Linked DNA regions of Homo sapiens. The protein of the gene in region 2 purifies or fractionates together with the protein of the main gene of each other region. This does not show direct contact. Each region holds a gene or a part of one and is shown on either strand. Other genes may lie near its edges.

Region 1 (3,813 bases), on a different chromosome or scaffold from region 2:
TGTAATCCCAGCTACTTGGGAGGCTTAGGTAGGAGGATTGCTTGGGCCTAGGAGGCGGAGGGTGCAGTGAGCTACGATTATGCCACTGCACTCCAGCCTGGGCAACAGAGCAAGACGCAGTCTCAGAAAAAAAAAAAAAAAAAAGAAAAAAGAAAAGCTACCATCTTATTTTCCACCTTGGACTCATGGATCAACTGCCCTACAAGACTGAAATCTGGGGGTGTGGAGTGGAGTCTTAGTCACCTCATGTGCCTAGCACATATCAGTGACTCAGTAAATCTGTTTCACTGAATCAATCAACGAATGGGTGAATAAATGCCAGGAATACGAAAATTTAACTAACTTGCCACACTCAAATGCTTCCTGGTTAGCACACTGGATGACAATGAACAGAAGGTACATGAATGCTGACAGTATACATCCAACAGGTGACAGAGGCTCATCACACTATGAGACATCCACTGGCTTCCGGTTTCCAGCACCAAAGCAGTGTGGCAAAGAATGCAAACCAATGTTGCTTTCTTTGGAAAACATAAAAAGAAGCGAGCCATTCATAGTCTTTTTTTCCATCTTTTGCCAACCAGAGGAGTGAAAGTAAATCTGTTCACTCCATGCTGGAGCAGTTCTTTGGGCATGGATGCCGTGCTCAAAGGCCACCACCTGCAAGAAGGCTGGGGCGTCCAGCCTCCACTGCCAGCAGAAGTCAGCCTCCTTACCTGCCGTCGCCTGGGCTCGGCCCCTGCTCCAGTATGCCCGCGGAAGAGGGGACAGTCCCACCCCCAGAGCTGCTTTCAGCCCTAGAGCTCTGGGGAGGGGGCTCTGGGCCAGCGGGCACCACGGTGCTGCCATCTGTGGGCGGAAGTGGCGGCTGGAAAGCGGGGGATATGTGCTTTCTATTTAGAGTGCCACCCCGCCGGTGGGCCTGGAAGTCCATAAGCTTCACACCAAAGCTACACAGAGAGAAGAAACAGTCAACACACCATGCGAGCAGACTACTGAGACAGAAGCCCATCGGTCCACATGTGTTAAAACCACACATGGGGATAGCCACCCAAGCTGCCCGGCATGCAGTGAAGCGGCAAGGACCAGACTAATGGCCACCCCTGAGCAACTCCACTCGGCTTCAAGCCTGAGCAAAGCCAATGAACCTGGTACTGTTCAATGTCTTTGATCAATTTGGGTGTGAGCAGCTAAAAGCAAATAGGCAGGCCTCATCTTGAATGACATCATGTTAGTGTGTTTATCCCCATACTTCCTCTGCTGTTTTTTTCCCCCTTTAGACATGTGGTCTCACTCCACCACCCAGGCTGGAGTGCTTGGCACTCCAGTGGAGCAATCATAGCTCACTACAGTGCCAAACTCCTGGGCTCAAACAATCCTCCAGCCTCAGCCTCTGGAGCAGCTTGGACTACTGGCACACATCACCATACTGGGATACTAAAAAAAAATTTTTTTTTGTAGAGATGCGGTCTCACTACATTGCCCAGGCTGATGTCAAACTCCTGGCCTCAAGTATTCCTCCTGCCTTGGTCTCTCAAAGTGCTGGGATTACAGGCATAAGTCACCACATCCGGCCTATTTCCATACTTCCTAGTTCCCATCTCAAATCTGTTTTTGGGGAATGACACAGAAGTCAAGTCCAGAAGGCCTACCAATGGCAGTGTAAGGTTATCACACCACACTGCCTCTTAACTGAGATGAGATGTAGAAACAATCCTATGTGCATATGCAGACTACATGTGAAAGGTACATAAGGCTGGAAAAGCTGGGCATGGTAGCTCACACCTGTAATCTTAGCACTTTGGGAGGACAAGGTGGGAGGATCGCTTTAGCTTGGAAATTCAAGACCAGCTTGGGAAACATCGTGAGGCCCTGTCTCTACAAAAAACTATTTTTTTAGAAAATTAGCTGCGTGAGGTGGTGCGTGCCTATAGTCCCAGCTAGTCAGGTGTGTGAGGTGGGAGGGCTGCCTGAGCCCAGGAGGTCAAGGCTGCTGTGAGCCATGATCATACCACTGCACTCTAGCCTGGGCACATAACCCTGTCTCAAAAAAACAAAAACCAAAAAGACTGGAAAAAGCCGTTGCTTTGGGGAAGGGAATGGTGGCTGGATGTGGCTGGAGAGGGTGGAAGGAAGGCTGACTTTTCACTTAAGGCGACTGATCTATGAACTTAACAACTTTTTCTTTCAGTTCAAAAAGTAAAAAGATACCTGGCTTCTTGAGCTCGTGCTTACTGGGTCAGCTGGCAGGGAGAATACACAAGGCAGGTAACTGAGAATTGTCTGTCACGTGCTAACTAGACTCATGCACTGTATTCTGTAACTTAAAATATATGAAAGCTAATTTTGTTACAGGTAGAGTCTGTCATCAGGAAATACTACTGAATGTATGAATGAGGGTTCAGAGAGGTAATACGTCTGCATAGAATAAATGTGGATTTTGGAAGGACAGAATAGGGACAGAATAATGCATTCTCCTTTGCTAGGGGTAAAAAATGCAATACAAAGAACAAGAAACAAACAGCACACCTCACTATAAGACTGAGCAATTAAAATAAGAGCTTGTCACTTCGTTTTAATGTAAAACTATTTCTAGTAGTATTATTTAATATACCAAGAAAAGCATATTACTTCCAACAGGCCTCTTAACTGTTAGCATTCCTAGTGAGTACAGTGGCATTTCATCACACACATGGGACAGGTTGGCATCCAAAGGCACAAATTACAAACAGTCTTAATCACCCTTGAAAATCCCATGAATTGCCCATAGAAAAGAGTATATAGAGACACACTGCTTCTCACTAAGTTCAACACTGCCATTTTTTTTTCTTCTAGAATTGGCAAATACTGAGGTTTTTCCCACTGAACATCAAATTCAGTGGTTGGCTTCCATTGTGGGGCCACATTATACCAGAAATATGTCTCCTTAAACGCCAAATCACTCAACTCACTGTGCCAGGTGGGTGTTCTCACACTCAATTCTGGACAAAAGTCCACACTATTGAATTTATTTTCCTTTCTGTTTCCCCCCACTCACGTACATCTGGGTCACTTTTAACATGTGTATGATGCCGTTCCACTGCAGGGCTTACCAAGCACACCACCAAGTTAAGCTGGAATACACGTGGAAGAAACGTTAACTGAGAAGCTACACACTGACTTTATGGTGAGATTAGTGCTTGGAATGACCTACAGCAGAATTCCAGAAACTATCTGGACACCATCAGTCATGGGTGGATGGCGACCACTCTCAAATCCCAAGTCCACTGAGCGATACCAGATACCACGGGTCTAACAACATATTTACTGCTGGTTTGGAAGTGAACGGTCAAATCATACCTTTCCTTCTTCACCAAGTCTCCTTCCATCACCGCCATGCTAGCAGGCCGCTTCCTCTCCAGGGTCCCCGAGTCAGAGTCGTTTCCAGTGTGGAATGAGTGATTAGAACTCGGGGTGGTGAGAGGTACAAATGCTTCTGATACATTAAATTCCACCTCTGCAAGAGGAAAAATAAACAAGTGCATGAGACACTGAGCACAGCAGGCGAGGGAGCTCTAAGACACCCCTCATTGGAACGGGAACCTCGTTCTTCAGTCCACAGCCCTCACTATTTCAAAGTGGAAGCTCCAGGCACTCACATCGCAAGAATGGTCCATCAAACCAGTGGGAAGTAATGTTAAGAGGACAAGACAGGGGAAGAAGTATGGGTCAGAATATAAGTTACACACTTTTGTGCTTTCTCTTTTGTGGAAAAAAAATAAATAAAAACAAATCTAGAATGTAGAAGAGGACGATGAGCACAGATCACTTATT
Region 2 (3,813 bases):
CTATAAAGATGAGAAGGCAGGTCCATGATACAGCTGGGAGCAAGCCTTTGGAGCATCGCTTCCAGAAATTCTATCTGTCCTGTAGTAAGTAGTAGCATCCAGATAAAATCAGTGGTTCTCCTTTCTCCTCTTCCAAACACATTCTGAGAGTTTCTTGTTTAAATAACTATGTACACACCCAGCAAGCCTGGTCTCTCTTTTACATGAGGGTCCTTCACTTGAGGGTCCTACAATGGCTTTAGAGTCGGTTCCAATTGCCTTTTTGGAGATTTACTGCTTGGGACCAAACCTGCAAGGCAAAGAAATGACTGAACACTATAACAGGAAAATCTTGAAGATGAAGGCATTCCAGTGATTAAGAGACTGAGTCTTAATATAAACAACCCTCAACTCCCTACAGGGCTCTGGTACTCTGGCAAATGGAGTAATTGGGCTTGGGCCCATCAACTCTGTCAGCCAGAAGGCCATATGCCCTCCAAAGGCCTTGGAAAACAGCTCCATACCTCCCTCTGATAAGGACAGTTTCTCAAGTTCAGCTTCAAGTTCAGCATCTGAGATCCTAGGGTTAGGCACGCTGTTGGTAAAATGCCTATTGCGGGGGTTGTCAGGCAGATCCAAAGGTTCTTTGGTGGTATCCTGAAGGAGGATGTCCAATTCCTTCTCCAGTTCTTCACTGTCAAAATCTGGAAAGAAAAGACAACATAAAGATGCATAAACTCAAGGGAGAAATGCATTAATGAGTACAGGACTGAGGTTACCAAAACCCGCTTAGCTTTACAAAAGATGCCAGGCCTCCTTGCAGATTAAAAAAAAATCCCGGAAGTCAGGAGGGTAGCTTCAAGCAGAGATGATTCTTCCACACTCCAAGCTAAGTCACCAAGGAGGTGTATTCTGTTAACACCATGGACCTGACCCTGATTCCCACTGCCCTTGAAGGAGGATCCTCCAGTCAGAAGCCTTGTGAATGAGGAATGCCGCAGCACAGATGGGTCATGAGCACAGCTGTCGAGGAGGAAATGGCAATTCCCTGACTGCTCCCGCAGATGAGCCCCAGGGAGGGCAGGCTAGGAGAGGCCTGCCTGCACCCGGAAAAGCAAATCTACTGTCAAACTCATCACAGCACAGGGAAGCGAAGTCTTCCAGGATGAAAGGAAGAAACACTCACCTTGGGCCAGGTGTGGTGGCTCACACCTGTAACCCCAGCACTTTGGGAGGCCGAGGCCGGCGGATCACGAGGTCAGGAGTTCCAGACCAGCCTGACCAACAGGTGAAACCCCATCTCTACTAAAAATACAAAAATTAGCCAGGCGTGGTGGCGGGCGCCTATAATCCCAGCTACTCAGGAGGCTGAGGCAGGAGAATCACTTGAACCCAGGAGGCGGAGGTTGCAGCGAGCCGAGAATGCGTCACTGCACTCCAGCCTAGGTGACAGAGTGAGACTCCATCTAAAAAAAAAAAAAATGACCCCGTCTCTACTAAAAATACAAAAAATTAGCCGGGCATAGTGGCAGGCGCCTGTAGTCCCAGCTACTTGGGAGGCTGAGGCAGGAGAATGGCGTGAACCCGGGAGGCGGAGCTTGCAGTGAGCCGAGATCCCGCCACTGCACTCCAGCCTGGGCGACAGAGCGAGACTCCGTCTCAAAAAAAAAAAAAAAAAAAAAAAATGAATAAAAATAAAAATAACCACCTTGTCCACTCACCTAAGCCATTTGTTACCCCACCAGCCAGAGTCTGAGAAACTTCATCCTGGGTGTCACAGAGCTGTAAGAGACAAGTGCAAAGCCTTGAGCTGGGCATGGTGGCTCTGAGCATCTCAGTCTTTGGTGGAAAATATCTAGGGTTACAAAGCAATCCTGCCCCAAGTGAGAATCAAGGAAAGCTTCCTCAAGTTCACAAGGTCACAAGTCAGGTTTCGTTAAAGAGGATGTGCAATGAAGTCAAATCTGTCCTCTGTCACCTCCTTCTCTGTGTGTCCCTCCCTGGCCCCTTTCTGTACCTCTTGGATCTGATCCACGAGGCTCTCTGCCTTCTCCACTGTGACATCCTTCATGGAGAGTTTGAGTGCTCCTACCCCAGCCTGGTAGGCGTTAAAAACCTAAAGACAAAGCAAAGCTATCAGTGCAAATGACAGACATTTGGCAAAATACATACAATATTGTTTCAACTCCAAAAGGCAGCTTTGGGGTGTTTTTTTTGGCACCCAAGCTCAATTTACCCTATACCCACCGAGGCCAAACCTCCTGACTGGAAAGGCAAAGGCAACCCCAGCCACATCCCGAAAGAACCCAGGGATCCTCCAAACAGCCAAGCCGAAGCTGCAAGTGACCAACACACACGGAGAGACCAGCCAAGTGCTGGAGTAGAGGGGAGTGACTACCATCTGATCTGTCTGGGAGGCATAGATCCGGTCCAGGATGCCTTGAACAGTGTCCAGCTTGGCATGCAAGGCCTCGATGCGCTTCTCTGTCCGTTGCTTGGCCTTGAGAGACCTCAGTGCCTGGAGGCATGGAGACTTAGGTCAGTGCTGAACTGGGCGAGCCAAAGGGCAAGAGGAAGACAGCCCTTCCCAGACGCTAAGGATGTCCCAGCTTTCTTCCCTCCCATCTGTAAAATAAGCTGTGGTGCCTGGGCCCCCTGCAGACTCTACCCCCCTCAAAACCCCAGCAAGCTGCTCTCTGAACTGCTGGGCATTGCTCCAGGCCTGCCTGGGGCACTGCTATGGGTCTGGAGGAGACAAGAACTCACCAGCTGCTTCTTTCCTGCTCGGCATGCCCGGCGGGCTTCTTCTTTACACCTGGAAACAAAGGGACAGATAAGATTACTGTGCCACAGGATGGGAGTGGCAGGGTCCCAAAGGGTCCCTGAGAGCAGCACTCAGTTAAGGTGGTTTTAAATCTGAAGACTAAACCCAATACCCAGTGGCAAGAAAACTGATGCTGACGGCAAAAACTCTTGTGGCAAGTCTGTTGACAGTCTGTTGTGGCAGGCTCAAGCAGGCTGACTAAGGATAAGCTTTTTCAACCCACAGGGACAGAACATGCAAACAGGGCACATTATACACATCTTCCTGTTTTGGGGAGACAGGGAAGGAACTGTTAACACCAACAATGACCTCGGACATATCCTCTGCCTCCCAACAAGGCTAGACTTTCCCACCTGGAAGACAGACTTCAATGTCTGTGTTCTCCTGCCAGAGGGTGTGTCTTTATTAGGGATTCCTTGTACAGTCATTCAGGGGGAAGGGCAGGGGAAGAGCCCCTCAGAAAGACCTCTGCAAAGGCAGGGACCTGTCTTGTCCACGGCTGTATCCCCAGTCCCTAAGACAATGCCTGGCTCAATAAATATTAGTTGAATGGACACTGGCAAGGAAGAGCATAAACATAACATTCACAGTCATGGTCTGTGGGGGAAGCATTAAGACTCACGTTTTCAGCTGGGCACAGTGGCTCACCCCAGTAATCCCAGCACTTTGGGAGGCTGAGGTGGGGGTCTTGTTTGCGCCGAGGAGTGTGAGACCAGCCTGGGCAACATGGTGAGACCCCATCTCAACAAAAAATTAAAAATTAGCCAGGCATGGTGGTGCACACTTGTGGTCCCAGCTACTCAGGAGGCTAAGGCGGGAAGATTGCTTGAGCTCAGGAGTTAGACTGCAGTGAGCTAAGATCATGTCACTGCTCTCCAGCCTAGGGGACAGTGCAAGACCCTGTCTCAATTGAGGAAAAAAAAAAAAAAAAAGGCCGGGCACGGTGGCTCACGCCTGTAATCCCAGCACTTTGGGAGGCAGAGGCGGGCGGATCACGAGGTCAGGAGATT

Evidence for each region.
Region 1: the proteins of CHMP7 (region 2) and ARHGAP17 fractionate together in Homo sapiens (co-fractionation; one large-scale study listed by BioGRID). This does not show direct contact.

What each region holds. Positions count from the first base shown.
Region 1 is NC_000016.10:24,938,648-24,942,460, forward strand, and holds part of ARHGAP17 (rho GTPase-activating protein 17), read right to left. Parts: intron 3,497-3,813; coding exon 3,340-3,496; intron 951-3,339; coding exon 717-950; intron 1-716. UniProt on the Homo sapiens protein: Rho GTPase-activating protein involved in the maintenance of tight junction by regulating the activity of CDC42, thereby playing a central role in apical polarity of epithelial cells.
Region 2 is NC_000008.11:23,257,014-23,260,826, reverse strand, and holds part of CHMP7 (charged multivesicular body protein 7), read right to left. Parts: intron 2,795-3,813; coding exon 2,746-2,794; intron 2,498-2,745; coding exon 2,378-2,497; intron 2,096-2,377; coding exon 1,997-2,095; intron 1,762-1,996; coding exon 1,701-1,761; intron 684-1,700; coding exon 504-683; intron 290-503; coding exon 228-289; 3' UTR 1-227. UniProt on the Homo sapiens protein: ESCRT-III-like protein required to recruit the ESCRT-III complex to the nuclear envelope (NE) during late anaphase. Together with SPAST, the ESCRT-III complex promotes NE sealing and mitotic spindle disassembly during late anaphase.